3 linked regions of the Homo sapiens genome follow. The protein of the gene in region 3 purifies or fractionates together with the protein of the main gene of each other region. This does not show direct contact. Each region holds a gene or a part of one and is shown on either strand. Other genes may lie near its edges.

The links.
Region 1: the proteins of ZNG1B (region 3) and METAP1 purify together in Homo sapiens (affinity purification with mass spectrometry; 3 studies listed by BioGRID and IntAct, with this or other methods). This does not show direct contact.
Region 2: the proteins of ZNG1B (region 3) and HSPA12A purify together in Homo sapiens (affinity purification with mass spectrometry; 3 studies listed by BioGRID and IntAct, with this or other methods). This does not show direct contact.

The regions. Positions count from the first base shown.
Region 1 is NC_000004.12:99,054,691-99,061,720, reverse strand, and holds part of METAP1 (methionine aminopeptidase 1), read right to left. Parts: intron 3,969-7,030; coding exon 3,903-3,968; intron 568-3,902; coding exon 404-567; 3' UTR 1-403. UniProt on the Homo sapiens protein: Cotranslationally removes the N-terminal methionine from nascent proteins. The N-terminal methionine is often cleaved when the second residue in the primary sequence is small and uncharged (Met-Ala-, Cys, Gly, Pro, Ser, Thr, or Val).
Region 2 is NC_000010.11:116,670,692-116,676,596, forward strand, and holds the end of HSPA12A (heat shock 70 kDa protein 12A), read right to left. Parts: intron 5,812-5,905; coding exon 5,708-5,811; intron 4,728-5,707; coding exon 4,090-4,727; 3' UTR 501-4,089; downstream 1-500. UniProt on the Homo sapiens protein: Adapter protein for SORL1, but not SORT1. Delays SORL1 internalization and affects SORL1 subcellular localization.
Region 3 is NC_000002.12:113,432,991-113,440,692, reverse strand, and holds the start of ZNG1B (zinc-regulated GTPase metalloprotein activator 1B), read right to left. Parts: upstream 3,003-7,702; 5' UTR 2,825-3,002; coding exon 2,671-2,824; intron 1,674-2,670; exon of another isoform or gene 1,622-1,673; coding exon of another isoform or gene 1,576-1,621; intron 1-1,575. UniProt on the Homo sapiens protein: Zinc chaperone that directly transfers zinc cofactor to target metalloproteins, thereby activating them.

The DNA of each region.
Region 1 (7,030 bases), on a different chromosome or scaffold from region 3:
TCCATATATATAATTTAAAAAATCTGGTGCAACACATATTGCTAAGTTTCAAAGATTCTCATTTCCAATGTTCACCTGGAAAGCAGATGGCTCTTGATGGCTGTTTTGCGGCAGTGATAAAAGCAACTACAAGCAAGTTTAAGTAAAAGTGCTCAAAGGGCAAATGAGAAAACAGGTGTGCAGGGGGAGGGGGCTGAAGAGTTGAGCAATGTTTCCTTTATTCTTCTCAGCTTTTTCAGACCCAAGACAAGTTCTTGAGGACACACATCAAATGCTGTAGTCCTTTCTTATCTATAGTCAAAACAAAACAAGTGATTAAAAAAAGGTTCCTCTTCCTTTCTGTACTCTCAATAAAATGCATAGCACAGTAAGAAGGTACTGAGATGTGCCATCTTGGGAGAAATTAAAATTGAGACATGAAGTGAGGCCGTGCACTGTCAAGTCGCCGGGTTAGGATTTCACAGCCAGTGTCTGTGACCAGGAGGGTGTGCTCAAACTGAGCAGACCGCTTTCCGTCTCTTGTCACCGCAGTCCAACCATCTGGCCAGGTTTCATCCTGCCATCCGCCTTCAACAAACAAAAACAATTTCTTAGTTCACTCAGTTTTCTAAATGAACTCTATCAAGAAGAAAGCCAAGGAAAAAATTCACTACTAAGATCCTTATTTACATGCCAATTGTTTTAGCTAATGCCTTTCCAACTTCATTTTGGTCTTCAGTATGTTTGATGTTTAAATTTCATCAGATGTATTACAACCACATTTTTTATATATCCCAAATATCAAATCAAGATGGAATTTCCAAAATAAAGGCGCTGGATTTCATTTTAACAACATATTGATACCAATCACCACAACTTTGAGTAACAACCTTAATTAATTATATGTATCATTATATGTATCAAAGCATCACTATGTACCCTATGAATATGTACAATAATTGTCCATTTTAAAACAGGAAATTTTTTAAAAAGGACATTCTGCAATATGCTACAACACAGATGAACCTTGAGAACATAATGCTAAGTGAAATAAGCCAGTCATAAAAAAGCATATGCTTGGCCAGGCGCGGTGGCACACGCCTGTAATCCCAGCACTTTGGGAGGCCGAGGCGGGCAGATCACAAGGTCAGGAGATTGAGACCATCCTAGCTAACACAGTGAAACCCCATCTCTACTAAAAATACAAAAAATCACCCGGGCATGGTGTTGGGCGCCTGTAGTCCCAGCTACTCGGGAAGCTGAGTCAGAAGAATGGCATGAACCTGGGAGGCAGAGCTTGCAGTGAGCTGAGATCGCGCCACTGCATTCCAGCCTGGGCGACAGACCAAGACTCCGTCTCAAAAAAAAAAAAAAAAAAAAAGCATGTGCTTAATGATTCCACTTCTATGAGGTAGAGTACAGTAGTCAAAATCATGGAGATAGAAAGCAGAACAGTGGGTGCCAAGGTCTGGGAGTAGTGAGCAATAGGAAGGGAATGTTTAATGGGTTGAGTTTCAGTTTTACAAGATGAAAAGACTTTTGGAGATGGATGGTGGTAATGGGTGCACAACGTTATGAATGTATTTAATAATATTGAACTGTACATTTAAAAATGAGATGTGTATTTTACAATTAAAAAATCAGAAAAAAAACTTGAATGAATTTAGCTCTTTCCTAGTATAACTTGGGCATCTGACAAAACTATACTCAGCATATATTGTGAAGGAAATCATGTAAATGTTTACAGTTTTATTACAGCATTCAATTCCTGATATAATTTCAAAATGGTAGGCACACAAACAGATGGTGAGAACAGATTATACAGTGAAATTTTTGTGAACTATACCCCTGGAATCAGAAAGAGGGGCAAAAGAAAGACTGGTGTGAGAGCATAAGAAAAATATGAAGCAGAATGGTCTGGACAGGAGTTGAAACCAGAGAAGGGAAGCAAAGGGACAGTGAATCTGGGAGGCCATGAAAGAAAACTCAGAGAAAGGAGGGAAAGGGGGTGAAGGGGTCATAATGAGGGAAAGCAGAAAGCAAAGGCCCAAGAGAATGTGAAGCAGAGGTGGAATGAGAAAGGCAATTCTAGATACTACTGTAAAAGATGTATTTGCGAGCTTTCTTCTTTCAAAATTAGATGTTAAAAAAAAATCAATACTTTCTTCATTTTGAGTAATCTTTAGGTGAAACATATTACCTCTAGGACTCACTGCCTCAGACAGACAAATCCCAGAACATAAACTCTGTAGTGAAGTAAACTACTTTTGCAATATTAAATCCCAGGCTAAAAAGAAAATACGAGGCGGCCTAAAAAAGTTAACTCATGCCTCATCAAGCAACTAAAGATGAGTACATCGATGTTTTTCAATGTAATGGCCTTTACACAAATGGCCTTTACACAAATTTAAAACATTACTACTGTAATTTTATTGTGATCTGATAAAACAGGATTTTTAGTAATGTCAAGTCAAACTTATTTGGCTATTCTGAGGAAATTCTCCTGCAGATTTGAGACTTTCTAGTCCAGGGATTTAACCTAGCTGAGTTACACTTCAAGTATATCTGCTATAATTTGATGATTAATTACCTGTGCTGGCTGTATAGAAAGTTATTTGCTTACTGAAAACACTACATCATGGCTCACCAACCAGGTGCTAGTTAATGGAAATACGTAGCCAAAATGACAATTTCCTCCCACTATCTTTCTTTTCACTGCTAAATACTTACCATCTTTACAACTGGTTGCACGTGATCAGAACTTTATCCTTATTATAAGAGGATGACAAAAACTTTACTGCACATTTGTGCAGTCTTTTAAAGTATATAACATAACATAAATCATCTCAGTCTAGCAGCCCTGGGTGTTGGCAAGATAGAGATTCTAATTTTCATTTTACAGAAAACGCAATAAGGAACCAGCTTTAGAAGGCAGCCTCTAAAGTGACTTCAGTGATCCCCAGCCTCCTGGCATGCAGGCCCTTGTGTGAGCTCCTGCTCCCCTTGAGTGCGGGCTGGATTCAGTGAATCACTTCTAAGAAAGACAATATAGAAGTCACTCCCAAGACTGGGTTATAAAAAGACTGGAAGGATCAAGAGAGGGAGTATCCTTTAAAACAGGGCTCAGGACACACAAGCTCTACTGCTACTGCCTCACTTTGCATCCCCTAACCAGAAAGCTCCATTACCAGAATCACTCTGAAAATCTCGGTGAGGAGCCCTAATTGTGACTCCCAGTCTCCTATCACTGCTACAAGCCTGTCTGGAAGAGATGACAACAGTGGGGAGGCTGCCAGAGCCAAGTGTGCTTTCCAAGTGTCCTTGGTGTGCTTTCCCCACAATAGCTATATGATGCCACGTGATGACATGAGTACAGACCATGAAGGGTCAGAACAGCTCATGAGCTGAGTCTGACAAATTCTGCCAAGTAACAAGCTAAGTTACAGGCAAGCTACCCACCCTCTTCAAGGACCAGTTTCCTAGTTTCTATAATGGGGTAACACCTACCTTATAAATTGTGAAGAATTAAATCATATAATCATGTCTGCCTCGAACTGGGTGGCTCGTCAATGCTCTGCTCTGTTCCCTCCTCTTCCCTCTCCTACATCAAGCAAGAACGTCCGCACAGACTTGACCTGGGCACCTCATTATTACAATGCACCCTTTGACATGATCTTTATGAAAAGGGACCAGAATTCAAGCATTTCAGCATCTCCTGACAGAAGACTACCACGCAGAACCCATGCCGTTCTTGCCAACCCTCACAATTTTCAGTTCTTCACGATACTGAATCAAGTTTGAGGTGGGACAGGGAGTGAGTAGGAAGCAAAAAGCAAGCAGGTAGAAAAGACCACTGACATGATGAATTACCTAAAATACATATAAATTCAATTGAAAAATATCATGGCATCCTTTTTTCTCACCTTCACAAATCATTGGCTCAATTGTAAATACATGGCCCGACTTCATCACTCCAACTGCTTTATTTTCTGAAATCAAAGAAAAAAATCTCAAAAGGTAGCAAAACCAACAGTGTACTGTTGAACAGCTAACTAGAAAGAGTACATAACTCAAATTCCCATCAGTGATTGTTAAATTAATTACCCTGATTCCCTTTCTTAAAGTTCAACAAACAGGTATTATACTGGCAGCCATCTAATATGGTGCACGTATTGTCCTAGGCACATTTCAATTACGCTTATGTGTTCTCTAGGAAAACAGAGGTATTTGTAGGCTGTATTTCAGAGATGAGTATCACTTCTATAAAAAGAAAAGTGGCAAATAAAGAATAAAAGAAAAGTGCCTTGATTTCTATTACCTCATGATTAGAATTGCAATCACAGAACCAAGAGTTCCACTACTCATCCGGGTAGAGAAGCTCAAAGGAGAATGACAGATGTTTCAGATTATGCCAGAAATTTCCCACCGCTTTGGGGGGTAAGCATGTGTTTGCACACAGGTGCACAGCCCATAGAAACTACATGATTTTCATAATGTTTCATAAGCTGTTGTGTTTTTCTCATCTTCAAAGAAGAACAAAATCTATGCACATTAACCTACTTTTTAAAAAATAAGCTGGGTGCGGTGGCTCATGCCTATAATCCCAGCACTTTGGGAAGCCGAGGCAGGTGGATCACCTGAGGCAGGTCAGGAGTTTGAGACCAGCCTGGCCAACATGGCGGAACCTGTCTCTACTAAAAATACAAAAATTAGCCAGGTGTGGTGGCGTGCACCTGAAATCCTAGCTACTCAAGAGGCTGAAGCAGGGAATCACTGGAACCCAGAAGACAGAAGTTGAAGTGAGCTGAGATCAATTGCGCCACTGCACTCCAGCCTGGGCGATTGAGCAAGACTCTCTCAAAAATAAAAACAAGGCCGGGCGCAGTGGCTCACACCTGTAATCTCAGCACTTTGAGAGGCCGAGGTTGGTGGATCACGAGGTCAGGAGATCGAGACCATCCTGGCCAACATGGTGAAACCCTGTCTCTACTAAAAATACAAAAAATTAGCTGGGCGTGGTGGCGGGGGCCTGTAGTCCCAGCTACCGGGAGGCTGAGGCAGGAGAATGGCATGAACCCGGGAGGCTGAGCTTGCAGTGAGCCGAGATTGTGCCATGCACTCCAGCCTGGGCGACAGAGCAAGACTCCGTCTCAAAAACAAACAAACAAACAAGCAAACAAAAAAAACAAAAAACAAAACAAAAAACAAACAACTAAGGAGACCATTATTTTTTAATTCAAAGCAAAAAAGCAAACTCCATTTCTCTCTCCAAGTACTTTTTAGCTTCTTTGTCCAAGTTCACTAATGTAAGTTTTTTTCAGGATCATCATGAGCAATACAACAATAAATTACAGTGACCAGACCTGCCATACCCCTCAAAAATGCCAAAAATGTTAAAACTAGGAATAGGCTTTTTTAGACAAAAATGGAGAACTAATTTAAATTCCAAGTTAAACAAAACCTAATAAGGGTATCAGCTAAGTGAATGACTGCAATGCCCAACCTGACCACCAGATGGCTAATACATCAGCTTTTCAGGGTTCCTCTGCGAGGTTGTTCTGATCTGCAACTTTGTTATGAATGGCAAATTTGCCCGCCCTTTGAGGCTGACTCAACTAAACTCTCCTCTTTCCAGGAATGGTCTAACCTCCCCTACACGTTTATATTCCTGCATAACTTTCCAGATGAATAGCTATCGTGCTGCTTTCCACTATCTTAGGTATTGCCAAAATACACTTACTGCAGATTTCAAATCTGGAGCTTCTAAACTGTTATAAAATCCTAAGGTCATTTGAAAAAAGGAAGAAAAGAAAAACAAACATTTGACTTTTAATTTCTAAATTCATAAACTTTCAAAATGACATGCTTAATACATATACAGAATTGGTCTGTATTTCCTTGGAGAAACCAAAAAGAAAACGTCAAGAATGTCAGTGTGGTGTCACAGAAAGTAAAAAGGATGAAAGACTCTTGAACTCTGCCGTCCAGAACAGCAGCATTGGCCATGTATAGCTAGAAAGTACTTGAAAAGTGACCAATCAGAACTGAGGCTATCAGTGCAAAAGCCCTTTGGATTTCAAAGACTAAAACAACATGTAACATATCTCTCAATAATTTTTACACTGATTAAAGTTTCAGTTTCCCAACATACCTCACTCAACAAATACACATTATCTGAGTGACTATACTATCGCAGACACTCTTAGGTACTTTTTAAAAAATTTGTACCTGATCTATAGTCTCTCACAGAATGACTGTAATATGCAGGCATGCCTTGTTTTATTGCATTTCACTATATTATGCTTCACAGATACTGCTTCCTTCTTTCTTTTCTCTTTTTTTTTTTTTTTTGAGATGGACTCTTGCTCTGTTGTCCAGGCTGGAGTGCAGTGGCACGATCTCGGCTCACTGCAACCTCCACCTTCCAGGTTCAAGTGATCCTCCCACCTCAGGCTCCTGAGTAGCTGGGGACTACAGTTGCATGCACCATGGCCGGCTAATTTTTGTATTTTTAGTAGAAGCGTGGTTTCACCATTTTGGCCAGGCTGGTCTAGAACTCCTGACCTCAAATGATCCGCCTGCTTCAGCCTCCCAAGGTGCTGGAATTACAGGTATGAGCCACCACATCTGACCAGATGCTTTTTTTTTTAAAAATAAATTGAAGATTTGTGGCAACCCTGCTCTGAGCAAGTCTAACAATGTCATTTTTCCAACAGTGCATGTTCACTTCATGTCTCTGTGTCACAATTTGGTAATTTTCACAATCTTTCAAACATGTTCATTATTATCACACCAGTTATAGTGATCTGTGATCAATGGTCTTTGATGTTAAAATTTTAATTGTTTTGGAGCACCACAAACTGTGCCCATGTAAAGACGGCAAACAAATGTTTGTGTGTGTTCTGAAGGCTCCATCAGCCTGCCCCACTTCTCTCTCCCTCTCCTCAGGCCTCCCTATTCCCTGAAACACAATACTGAAATTAGGCCACTTAATAGCCCTAGAATGGCCTCTAAGTGTTTAACTGAAAGGAAGAGTCACATGTCTCTCACT
Region 2 (5,905 bases), on a different chromosome or scaffold from region 3:
AACTGCAAATGAAGGCTGGTGGAGCCGACCACCATTTATACCTCTCTTTTATCACCCCATTTAGAACATACCTCGGGCCATCAGGAAGCTTTCAGAGCCAACTGTGGAGGGCGACTCAGGTGTAGGCTCTGGACACAGCCAGTTTCACGTGACGGCTGGGATGCCCAGGGGCAAGAGCCCAGCCAGGCCTTCTGCATGTTTTAATGACTTACACTGGGGTGCAGTGGCATTGGCAGTGGTCACTCTGCTTACCTGCCCTCCCTCTGGCTAGACCACTTTCTTCCAGAGAAAAGGGGCTCTGTGCCCATCGATGGGGCCTTGGTTCCCAGCAAACAAAGGGCCTAGTCTTGTTAGAATAACTTAAGAAAACTTACAGCACCTGGAAAAAACTGAAACTCTCTCTCCACCACCTGAGATGGGGTAGAGAGGGAGATCAGTACTGACGTGTCCATCATGCAGTTTGCAAACCCAGGATGGGGGGAAAAAAAATCTGGGCCACATGAGATTCAGAGTTTTGCTTTATTAGGCGTCTGTGAAGACAAGAGAGTTTGCAGACACAGTCCCGTCTGGTGGTGAACTGCTGCAAAGTTCTGTGAAGTTTGAATTTATCTTGTAGTGAATGAGACCCCAGTAGCTGATATTTTAGAATACTGGTCCATATTTCAAGCAGATGAGAGGTGTGGCATTATGGCCAACAACTTTTATATTAGCCATCCACTCAAGCCGTTTCCCAGCATACATATGCAGCTTAATCACAGCTATACATCTCTACAATGTGAAATTCGATCTTTGACTAATAATGCATTCTGACTCCTGTTTACATTGGTGCATGCGATTCTTTGCTACCCTGGCAATTAACCAGACCTGGACTCTAAAAGCTAAACTTGGTCTAAATAACATTCTAAGGGTAAGGCAACCTCTATAATCTGGACTCAGCCATCATTTTGCAAAAACAGTTGTATGGTTCCTCCTCTTTCCCCTCCTGTCTGTAACTTGTCTGTTACTCAGCATTTATTCATGCCTGCTGTGTACGGAAAGGGCAGTTACAAAGGAAAGCCTTGATGATTCTGCTTCCAAGAAACGTGAAGATCAGATAATATGCCAGGGACAATTGAGTAATGGGTCAAGACAACAGGCCTTGTAGGTATTTTCTAAGGTTAGAAAAATGTGTTCAAGTGTACTTATCCAGTGCTCTTATTCTAGAATATTCCAGTGGGGGTAGGGAAGGAGGGATGGATTTGGGGGTTTCATTTAAGGACTCTGACAACTGGGGCTGCAGCTCTGTGGCCAGAAGATAAAATTATCATCCTCTCCATCACCTATCTGCCAACACTGCAGATTTCTATCTGCTCATTTAAGAGAAACAGTACACAGGGAGATAGCATTAATGCAAGGCAGGAAAGGCTTTACATTAGCCCAAAAAAGAGGGGCTTGACCATGTTACTCACACTTACACTTAGCCCAGCAGAAAAGCTGGGCTTATGTACCACTTGGTTTCTTTCTTTGACCCTAGCATCCTGAAAACATCACACACAGTGGACCACGCTTTGCCCTCAGAGTGACTGCTCCGACCCGGAAGGAGAGGTCAACGACCCCTCAGGACACAAAGGGTTTCTTAGGTTGTTCTGCGCAGTCACATGGCTTCCAGAACCAGAACGTTCAGCTCTTAAAGTCTGCACAGAAGAACTGATAGAATCTGCTCCTTTCAATGGAATCTGTGACTGTTTGGGAAGGATGTGCATGGAGAAGGGTCTGATGAGGCTCCTGATCCAGGCGGTCCACGTGCGTTCAGTGTGTTTGGACCCTAGGCACCTCTGTCTATTGCTCGGTCTTGCGTACATAGTCCATAGCTTGGCATCAGCACAGATCGATGCTTAGTGAGCACAATTAAGAAACCAAACTATGGAAAATTAAGGACAGTAACAAAAGTATCATCAACAAAAATCAAGCATTTTCCTCTTTTTGAAACAAGAAAAGCGCATCGTAGAAACCAAGATTCTGTACAATATTCTAACATTATATGTACATAAAATTATATTACTCATAACTATATTGAAAAGTCTTATTTGTAGAATATGGCTGGCAACAAAGAAAGACCCATACCATTTAGCGTTTGAAGCAGGGCAGGTAGCAAGAGAACATTAGCAAAGACACCTTTGTGCCTGGATACACAATCCTGCTACTAAGTTATGTGACTAACCAGCACACTCTAAGTTCTGTGGTTTGTTCGTTGTTTCACATTCTAGTAGGGAATTCTGCAGCAGGCGATGCGAAAAAGAAGACATGGTCAAATGAAATGTGAAATGCTGTTTAAAATCTGCATATTGGCTATGATAATGGGTTTGTGAATCCAAGTTGCATTGGAAGTTCACTCATTCTCCATTCATTATGCATGCCTCCAGTGATTTAATGAATTTCAGCAGGTGGAAAAGACAGCTTTGAACAGATCAGATGGGCTGTGAGTCAGATTCTTGATTCTTTTTCCTCATTTGGCTCCTGAATGTTGCAGAAAACTGGTTTTGTACACTGGGGAAGGAGAGAGTGAAGACCCTCCAGTTGGTTCCTCAGTCAGCTCCGTTCTTGGTGTCGCTTTCTTGCAATTTTTTTCCTCCCCTGGCCCTTCCTGTGAGGGTTAAAAGGGCCATCTCCAAGCCAGGTGGAGCCCCAATCCCATTGACCAAGAGGGCAAGGTATGGGGTCACCTTCTCATGGAAGCCCTCTTCCTAAAGGAGCCCAAAGGGGACACCTGCAGAGGGCGGGCTGTGATCTGTGTGTGAACTTCAACAAAATCTCAGGTTAGTATTTCTCCAATTTCAGTTGAACCACGATGTGGTATACACTACAAATGCAGATTCTGGTGCCCCTCTCCAAGAGTCGGCCTCAGTTAAAAAGGGCTCAGATCCAGGAACCTGTTCTGAACACGCACCCAGGCAATTCTGATGCAGGCGAGCCACAGGCCCGCTGTGAAAAAAAACTGACTTAATACATCAAGTATAGATCTACAAATTATTTTTAGAGAGACTTGAAAAACTGAAGATTTTAATGAAACATTGCATAGCACAGATTCTCTTCCCAAATTTCACCAATGTATTCCTTTCAAAATGTGGAATTAAATGGCCAAAACTCTTAGGGAGATGAAGGTGAGTGGGAAGGAGGGGGTTAATTTAAAATCTGTCTGCTTTTCAAGGTGAGGGGCTCTTCTGGATGTCTGGTCTTGGTGATGCAAACAAGACCAATGGCAACCTCATTTTCTTACCCAGAATTCCTACTAAGGTTCACTAGAATTACTTATGAACTCAGAAATCAGGGCTGGGCATGCTGGGAATTTATGTCACAGCATATAATTTGGGATACGTCAGTAACTCTTCACTATCTGTTTCCATCATGGCAAGTTTTCACCTGCTAAGAATGTGAGGTATCAGCTCTCCTACTCACAAAAGCCCTAGTGGATTACCCAAGGCTACGGTTATTCTTCCCTGAACCTCCTTGCTGTTTAAATGATATGAGAATCTAAAACAGTGCCCAGTGTAGGCAGCCTTCTACCACCAGCTAAAAACATTCCCAGTTCCCACTGAATCACCACTTTTAATCACATGATGAGGAAAAGAAATTAACTGCAGATGGGTGGCATTTTATATTGATGGCCATCCAAAAAATTTAGAAAGACAAGTCTCAGATGAAGATCTCCTCCTGGTTCAAAGATCTCATTTTAAATCTAGAAAGACAGCAATAGGGCATCCTAAATTCTACATAACGGAGATCTGTTCAAAGCAGCGCAACCACTGCTGCAGAAATGTACTGATTCCCTTCTCCGTGGCCATTTCACCACTTTTGTACCTATGAAAACTAGCTGCTCCTCCAGGATCCTTTAATTTTCTATGCCTAAACCTTAATCTTAATTTCTGTTTTTCTGACTCCAGTGTGCCCTCAAAAGTCACTAATTATTTCTAGCCCTGATTGTTCTCATCTTCCCTGCTGAAATTCACATGGGCAATGGTGAGGGTCAAGGTTAGGGAAAGAACAGTCAAGGTTGAGGTCAGCAGATGCAGATAAGTTGAGTCCAAGGGGACAGGCAGCGGGGCGGGAGGGTTAGTAATTTAAGAAGTCGATCCCAACTTTGACACTCTTCGAAGTGGCTATATCAATGGCTGTGGCTTTGATCTCGGTGTCCCCGAACTGCATAAGGGTCTGGATCTCCCTCCGGGCGGGCACCGCAGTGCCACTGGTCCCTGTGAGATCCAGGCGGAGCGTGCCACACTTCTTCACCCCGGGATCAGTGATGAAGCTGACGTTGTCGTGCTCAGAGCTGTAGATGTTGATGACAATGACCAGCTGGGAGGGCTTGGCCGGGGTGTAGCTACGCTTGACCAGCTCACCCAGAGCCACAGACTGGTCGGCAGAGATGAACTTGTCAAAGACGTCGGTGCACCACCGAGTGCCATCCTTCACCAGCAGCTTCTCAGGCGGGTGCTTGCCCTCCACGTAGCGGTTCAGCACGCCTACCCCGTAGGTGAGCGGCGACCGGCGCACCTTGATGACCGCGGGGTCCAGGCCAAAGAGGACGGCACCCTTGAGGATGGTGAGGCCCACGTCCTGGGGGATGATGATCCGGCACTGGTCCCCAAAAGCAGCCTGCACCGCCTGCTGCAGCAGGGGCGCCTCGGCAAAGCCGCCCACCAGAAAGAGGAACTTGACGGTGGACACCTCGGGCTTCTGAAACAGGTCCCCTGGAAGGGAAGAGGCAGGGAGAATGTCCTGTCACCAAAAGCCAGCAAGGAAGGGGGAACTGGGCTGCCTGCATCTGTGGGGAACGGATAAAGCCACTTGGGCCACTGGGAGGGCAGGCTTACTCTGAGCTCCTTGAACAGAATCTTTGCAGAACTGGTCTTTTAAAGAAAGGGAGTTTGCACACCAATATGTTCCGGAATAAAAGCCAGAGCTGCTGCTAAGTAGAAATGCATTTTAACAGATACATGGTGATAATTTTAAGTAGAATTTGGTTTGCATAAATGAATACTCCTAAAGCTCTCCAAACCTGTGGTTCTGTTGGGTAAGTCAAGGCAGGTTGTTATAAATAGAATTCTCTGATTTTCATAAAAATCCCATTCCACTCCTAGAGAGTCTGATTTGGTAGGCGGGGGACAGGATACTGAAAGAGGTCCTGGTGAGTTTGCTATGTGTCCCTGGGTACTGCCACCAATGTAGCAGGAAAATGACATAGCCAGATTCCATTTGCTTGCAGAACTTCCTTTGATTCACACAACAGTTCCTTCTCCCCTAGCAGGGTGAGGATGTCTAACATGTCCCAGTAAAGCAAAGAATATGCATTTCCTAGGGCCTGCCACTCTCAGGTAACATTGCCTCAGAGCTTCCAGCTCTCTGATCTTTTTTGTTGTTTTAAAGTTTTGTTTGTTTATTTAATTCTTCCTCTTTGTCATTACCAGCTCTCTGACTTTTGAGGCCAAACGGAAAGCTTGGGTGAGACAAGCTCTCAGCAGCTTTGCAGTACGAGGAGAGGGATCCAGAGCCTATGCCCAGTAACCTCTCCCATACATGCCCAAGCCCTGCCCAGTCCTGCAGGGCCCTTGCCTGTGGCTCCCAGATCCAGGCCAACCTGACTCCACAGGCACCAGCTGGTGATGCTGGGAAAGCCCATCCCCTTTCTCAGCTCTGCCTCGCCGAGTGGCCGAGCCTGGCTGATACTTACGGAGATGCTCAATGATGCTATCGATGGTCGGCTTAAAAAGGGCGTTCATGGCATCTGGACTCATCCGCAGCATCCCCTGCGAGGACCACTTCACAAAATCCACACTGCAGGAGCATAGCATGGAGAAGAGCAGGCAGTGAGGGTCTACACGATACCCAGGCTTATCTGCATAGACACCTGCCCTGGCAGAACATCTGT
Region 3 (7,702 bases):
TATTACAGTGCTGCTAAAAACTTTTACATGTAGGCTATACATGTCTTCTGAAATACATTAAGTTTTCTAGTATATAACTAGGAAGATTTTACAGAGTATTAGGGTATTAATATCTTTTAGGTCATATTCCTTTCAAAGCTTTTTAAGAGATGAAGGCTTATATTTAGAGTACTTTAGGAAGCTCAACATCACAAAAATATGAAGTATAGAATGGGAGAGACTTAGGGCAATGAGGAAAATCTTAAAACCAGTCCAAGCCTGAGACAGAGGCCCTGAACATGAGTGTTTCACAGGGCAGTGATGTGAAAACTGAAAGGAAAGGGTGAATGTAAGAAATCTTCTAAGAGAAGATTTACTAGGGCTTTTTAACCATATTATGAAAAAAAAAACACTTTAAGACATAGCTCATTCATTCGAAGGTTTCTAATACGTTACAGATTTATGCTGAGCCTTGGTGAAAAAGTGAACAAGATAGTCTCTGCCTTCATAGAGCTTAGAAATATTAAGGGGGCCGGGCGCGGTGGCTCACGCCTGTAATCCCAGCACTTTGGGAGGCCGAGGCGGGCGGATCACGAGGTCAGGAGATCGAGACCATCCCGGCTAAAACGGTGAAACCCCGTCTCTACTAAAAATACAAAAAATTAGCCGGGCGTAGTGGCGGGCGCCTGTAGTCCCAGCTACTTGGGAGGCTGAGGCAGGAGAATGGCGTGAACCCGGCAGGCGGAGCTTGCAGTGAGCCGAGATCCCGCCACTGCACTCCAGCCTGGGCGACAGAGCGAGACTCCGTCTCAAAAAAAAAAAAAAAAAAAAAAAAAAAATTAAGGGAAGGGGGGAATGGAGGGGAATTCAGTGAATAAGGAGGCAATTATGTCACAGGGTGACATATTCAATAGGAGATGCACAAAATGCTATGGAGAACCTAAGAGGGACATCTAGCCAGAGGAGTCACAGTAAAAAAGTACCTATTCCAAGGGGCTAAAACACTTGGCACCTTTGAAGTAACATTAGTTCATTGTGCGGGGCCAATTTGGCAGGCTGGAAAGGTTGGCAAGATCCAGATGCTACAGGTCCTTGTAATTCATGTTAAGGAATTTGGATTTTAACCCATAGGGATGCCACTGAAAGGTGTGACGCAGTCGGATTGACATTTATAAAGATCATTAAGGCTAACATGCAACGAATAAATTAAAGGGCAGCAAGACTCCAGATTAGTCAGGAGGCTTTTAGAGTATTACAAATGGTTGGGATCACAGAAGCAGGATTTGGGGGGATGGTAACAGACGAAGTTTCAGACATGTTAAGTTTTAAGTTGTAGGACATCAAAATAGAAATTACACAGGTGTGTAGCTAAAGATGGACAAAGGGGGAAGGAGGAGGGAGCCTTAAAAAGAAGCCAGAGAAGCAGGTGGAAAAATCAGAAGAAAAATGTAATAGAAGCCAAAAGAACAGTGTTTCAGAAAGGGAAAATGGTCAGGGATAGGAGTGAAACTATCCCTAGATTCAGCAACAAGGTTGCTGGTATTAATTCTCACTCCTGAGCTTCAGATCATTTTCTCCAGTGATCTACTGACCTACCAGTGAGCAATACGGGAAAGGCCCGAGCGGCACGTTTGAAATACATTGTTTTGGACAAGAAATTTGTTCATCTTCTCAGCAGAGCAGCCTCTGAATAACTGTGGGGAAACGCCAAAAATAAATTCCTTTATAAAATTACTTCCGAGCAAAAAACGGGAATAAACTTACAGTCTACAAAGTTTTTTAAAAAACAAAAGCAGTTATTTCTTATTTTTACATAAAAGGTCACGAAGTGGCCCAAGTCTGTACCTGTCTCTAGCAACAACTAGGAATATTATTTCCCGGAAACAGTATCATTTTATTTACATTTCTTAACTTTTTCCAAACTTCTAATACAGTCATATATTTGTTCTAGCCCTTCTATTTAACTGTAAGGTTTAAAAATATATTTCTCAAACTTTTCCAGTAAGAAACTTCTAGTGTAAGTGCATAAACCGCCCTTCACGAAACTACCAAGTTCACAAACTTGTGGTTTCGAGTATCCCTGTACACTCTAAACGTTCTTAGTTTGAGAAATAGTCTTGGAGGACAGAGATTTTATTCTTACTTCCTACGCAGTGGTTTACAAACAGACCTCAAAAAAAAAGTGTTTAAGATAGGAGCGCTCCCTGCCAACTGGCTGGAGGACTTTGGCTCGTGGGGAAGGGGAATCTACTGACGAAAGCCCCACGTGTCGGGCATTTTACAGACGGGACATCCTTTAATGGCAACAGGTAGGTGGTTCCGGCCCTGTTTCACAGGTGACAGGTATTTCTCCATTTTCAGGTGAGGTAGATGAGCGTCAGGAAGGTAAGATAACTTGGTAGGAGGTCACAGAGACAATCAGGGGGGCGTGTCTTAGCGTCAAAGCCTTGTTTCAAAGGCTAACTTTCCATCTCACTTGAGAAATGGGAATCTAACGCAGAGGGGGCCGGGCATCATTAACTCCCAAGATGAGAGGCAACCCATACGAGAAGCAAGTGACCCAGCCCCTACCTCGAAGACATTTGCTCTTGATCATGAGGCCCCAATGCCTCAGGAGAAGAGGCACCGGCAGCCCGCAAAATCCCATGACACCAGAGGTCACGCCATTTTGTGACTGGGATGGTTAGTTACCTAAATACCCGGTGATAATTGTGACTGGGATCTTGGCGCCGAGGCCAGACTTTTCCTCCTCCTCGCTTTGCGTCGTCTCCATGGGAACCAATTCAGGACAATCCTCCTCCGCAGGATCCTCCTCCTCATCCGCAGATCCAACAGCCGGTAACATTCCGGCCTACAGCACGTCCCTACCTCAGCTGAACCGCTGGGACCAACACGCCGTACCGCAGCCGCGCACGCCCAGCACGCCACTCCCGGCCTGCCCGGGGCCTGACGTCATCACATCGCGACGCTCGCTGATCCCGCCCGGATTACCTGGGCTCTGGACGAGAAGCGCCTCGTCCCTTAGCCACACCCCCCGGGGAGGTGGGCTCTCCCCGACGACAGCTGGACACGCCCCTGGGCGTGTTCTGTGAACCTGAGCGACGCTGCGGAGAGTCCTTAGGGCGCACTAACCACCTGTCTGAAGGTGTCACTGGCGCCTAGAGCCTTAATAAGCTACTGGCTGTAGGTAGAGCTGAGGCCAGCCTGCTGGAAATCTGGAGTGGGTAGCCTGACCTAACCAGTTCCCACAGGGCATAGATTTTATCAACTTGATTTTTTAGTCTCGTTAAAAGAAAAAGTTTTAATTCATAGGGGAAAGAATGGAAGGTTATAACATTACAATTTTAATTGTAATTTTTATACCTGAAGGATAACCAGTGACAATTTTTTCTTTTTTTATTATTACATATTATATATGTAATTCCAAATTTTTAGTATTCATGCATCACTTTTATTTACTTTTTTCTCATTATTTATTTGGACCTCAGGTAACCTAAGTTCATTAATCGTATTTGCTGGTGCATGACACTCTCATCACTAATCCATAGATAGCCCTTCTTTCTAATATAAATTTATAGTGAACTCCTTTGACCTCATTCCTAACCTAAAAGCATTACCAGTAAGTTACACGTACCTATGTGCACCGCCCCTGCTTCCAATCCACAGCCTGCCCCATAAGATAGTAACAACAGTCATGAATTGGTTCTGGATTGCTGATCATTCCCTTTTAGTTTTATCACATATCCCACGTATGTACTTACAGAATATGTTGTTTAATTTTGGGTGTTTTTGAGCTTCATAAAATTATCCATATAATATATAAACTCCTGAGGCTTGCTATATTTTTCAGCATCACTGCTGTCTTGTATTCTATTGTGTGGCTACACGGCAATTTATTCATTTCCTCTCAATTGTTCCAGGTTTTGCTCTTATGAACAGGGCTGCTATGAACATTTTTCCTGACATATGTGTGTGCAACTTCCTCTTGAGTGTCTGTGTAAGAGCTGAATTGCTGGGTCCTAGATTATTCAAATGTTTTACTTCACAAGAAAATGCACAATTATTTTTCAAAATGTTTGTACAAATTGATACATTTTCCCAGCAAATTATAAGAGATCTCATTGGTCTGTTATGTCAATATTATCAGGCATGCATTTTTCACCAATCAATTGAGTACAAAAGAAGACTTCATTGTGATCTTCATTTGCATTTCCTTGATTACTAACAAGGTTGAGAATCTTTTCATGTGTTTTGGCAATATTTAATTCTTAGAATGACCCTGTAGAGTGTTATCCCTCTTTCAAACATGAGGCACCAAGAGTTAAGTTACTTGTCCAGGTTAGGTCATAAAAATCTATCTGATGCACAAGTAGAATGTTTTACTACTATCCTGATGCCAAATAAAAGGTTGACTTTTCCTTCCTTCTCTGAAATTCCCCATATAATATACTGTGTGTATTCCATTAGTTCTACTGATAAGGACATATAACTTGAAAGTATTTATCACGCCTTTTGCAGAACACAGTTAAGACAGAGGGTTTATATTTGTGCAAATGAGTATATTATATTCACACATACACTCGGTCTGAGAAATCAGGTCTTGAATGCTTTGCCAGCTTTGACAATGTAACCATGAACCAGCTGAGGAAGAAATAAGGCAAATACCTTAGGCATGGTGGTTCAGTTCACTTTATTCTACCAAAGGAGAGAAGCTGTGATGGGTAGCCCAAAATAGATAGCTTACGCCCTAAACACAATGGTTCATAAGCTTTTTCGTTTCAGGAATGCTATGAAGTATTGATTTTTTTGGCAACCTAAGGGAAGGAGTAACATTGCACCCACAGGCATCACACTATTTGCTTGATGTCCCTTCAGCACTGCATTACTGCCTGAATAGCAGCTATTACAGCCCTCACCACGTTCTTTGACATATTTTTTAAAGTACATTCTTGTGGGTTCCCAATATGGCACTGGCTGAATGTTATACTAAAATCCCTCTTTCTGTGTTTTGAGACAGGGTCTCACTCTGTCGCCCAGCATGGATTGCATTGGCACGATCACAGCTCACTGCAGTCCTAAACTCCTGGGCTCAGGTGATCCTCCCATCTCAGCCTCCCAAGTAGCTGGGACTCCAGTCATATGCCATTATATCTGGCTAATTTTTCTTTTTCTTTTTGGTAGAGACAGGGTCTCACTATGTTGTCCAGTCTGGTCTAAAGTCTCATCTCTAACAATGAGCAACCTGTAACTTATGAGGCCAGCTCAGTCAAGTTGACCAAATAGCATTGTTGTAACAGTATGTAGCCTCAGTGAGAGCAAAATAAGTTTTACACATTGGCCAAAAATTAAATGCACCACAAATATCTATCAACTGATAGACAACCAAAATGTGACAAATGGATAAACAAAATATGATCTATCCGTACAATGGAAAATTATTTGGCAATAAACAGGAAAAAGGACTGATACCTGCTACAACATGAACCAATCTTGAAAACATTATGGTAAGTGAAAAAAGCTATTCACAAAAGACCACACGTTGTATGATCCCATTTACATAAAATATCCAAAATAGGCAAATCTATAGAAACAGAAAGTACATTAATGGTTCCCAGGAGTGGAGGGCTGGGGAGAGACTACAGTGGTTTTTGGGCGGTGATGAAAATGTTCTAAAATTGATTATGGTGATGGTAGTACAACTCTGATTATACTGAAAACCATTGACTTGTACACTTTAAATTGGTGAATTGTATCATATGTGAAATTTATCTCAATAAAGCTGCTATTCTTAAAAGAAATAAACACCTATCTGTGCATCAAAATGGGGTGCCTGTGTACATTTGTAGAGAAACACTGTCTTCAGCAGTTTCAAGTTCTGGCCTCAGGCACAAGTATAAAGATTACAGCTTGATAAAATTTTTCCTTTAGTCTGTTCCATATTCCTCTTCAGTTAAATTTTTATCTATGGATTCTGTGGAGTCCTGTCATTTTATTTTCTCAGATAGAGTTGTAATTTCAGTTCTCCCAAAATAGCTGGTCATGACTTTTTATTTTTATTTCTTTTTTCTTTTTGAGATGGAGTCTTGATCTGTTGCTGAGGCTGGAGTGCAGTGGCACGATCTTGGCTCACTGAAACCTCTGCCTCCGGGTTCAAGCGATTCTCCTGCCTCAGCCTCCTGAGTAGCTGGGATTACAGGTATGCACCACCACGCCCAGCTAATTTTTGTATTTTTAGTAGAGACGAGGTTTCACCACGTTAGCCAGGCTGGTCTTGAACTCCTGACCTCCTGATCCATCCACCTCAGCCTCCTAAAGAGCTGGGATTACAGGCGTGAGCCACTGTGCCGGGCTTTTTTTTTTTTTTTTTTTAACTTATAAGAGGGTTAAATTGTTAAATTGTTAAATTGAAAATGCCTTTTTAAATAAGTATGAAATTTCTTAATTATAATATTTTAGAATCTATTACAGTTTCTGATGTAACTTAAAAATTCCTCCTCATTTAGCTTTGCTATTTTGTCTCATTTACTTTAGGGTAAAACAACAACAACAACAATAGTAATGTTTTGAGCCCCTAAGCATCTGATAGGCAACTGTGTTAAGCACATTAAATGCATTATCCCATTTAACTCTCCAAGGTAAATACTATTTGTGTGCCCATTTTATAGATGAGGAAATTGAGGCTTAGAAAAGATAAATACCTTGCTCAAAGTCATACAATCAGTAAATGGCAGCCCTTGGGCTCAATCCAAACCTGCCTGACACTAAATCTCCTGCTCTTTTAAACCAGAAGATCTGCAAACTTTTCTGTAAAACTAGATGATAAATATCTTAGTCTTTACAGATCAAAAAGCAAATTTGAGGACATTGTGTAGGTACTTATATAATATAAGAGAGAGAGCAAATGTCTACAAGTTTGAAATTTGAATTTCATGTATTAAACAAAATTATGAGAGGTCATTGTTTTGGACTGAGCTCCTGCACTAATCCCAAGCAGACCAGACCAAACCAAAATGGAGTCACTCATGCTAAGCACCACAAAATCAAACTAAAACTTTAAAAAACAGGTCCCAAAATAGATGAGTTTTTTTTTTTCTTCTCCTGAAGACAGAAGATTCCAGTATAATAAGGAAGTCCCCTCTGCTCTATCCTTTACAGAAAAGTAACCCAAAGTAACAACAGATTACTTACAAGAAAGCAATCTCAGCCAGACACAGTGGCTCATGCCTGTAATCCCAGCACTTTGGAAAGCCAGGGCGGGTGGATCACCTGAGGTCAGGAGCTTGAGATCAGCTTGGCCAACGTGGCAAAACCCCATCTATACTAAAAATACAAAAATTAGCTGGGTGTGGTGGCACATGCCTGTAGTCCCAGCTACTCGGGAGGTTGAGGCAGAAGAATTGCTTGAACCCGAAAGGTGAGGTTGCAGTGAGCCAAGATTGTGCCACTGCACTCCATCCTGGGTGACAAAAAAATAAAAAAGTAATCTGATGTTAACCAATCAGTTTTTTTTTTCTATACTGTTTCCTTGTTCCCACCTTACAAAATCCAGTGTTCTGCTATTTTCCAATGGCATTAGAGACCAAATAACTCTATTTATGATGATAAAAAGTGATGTCAATGCCTAAAGTTTTGGGCAACCTCAAAATTAATCATCCTCTCAAAATTGACAGGTTGACCAAAAGGAGGAATTGTTAAATTCATTGTGGCCTAAAGCTGCCTCCTT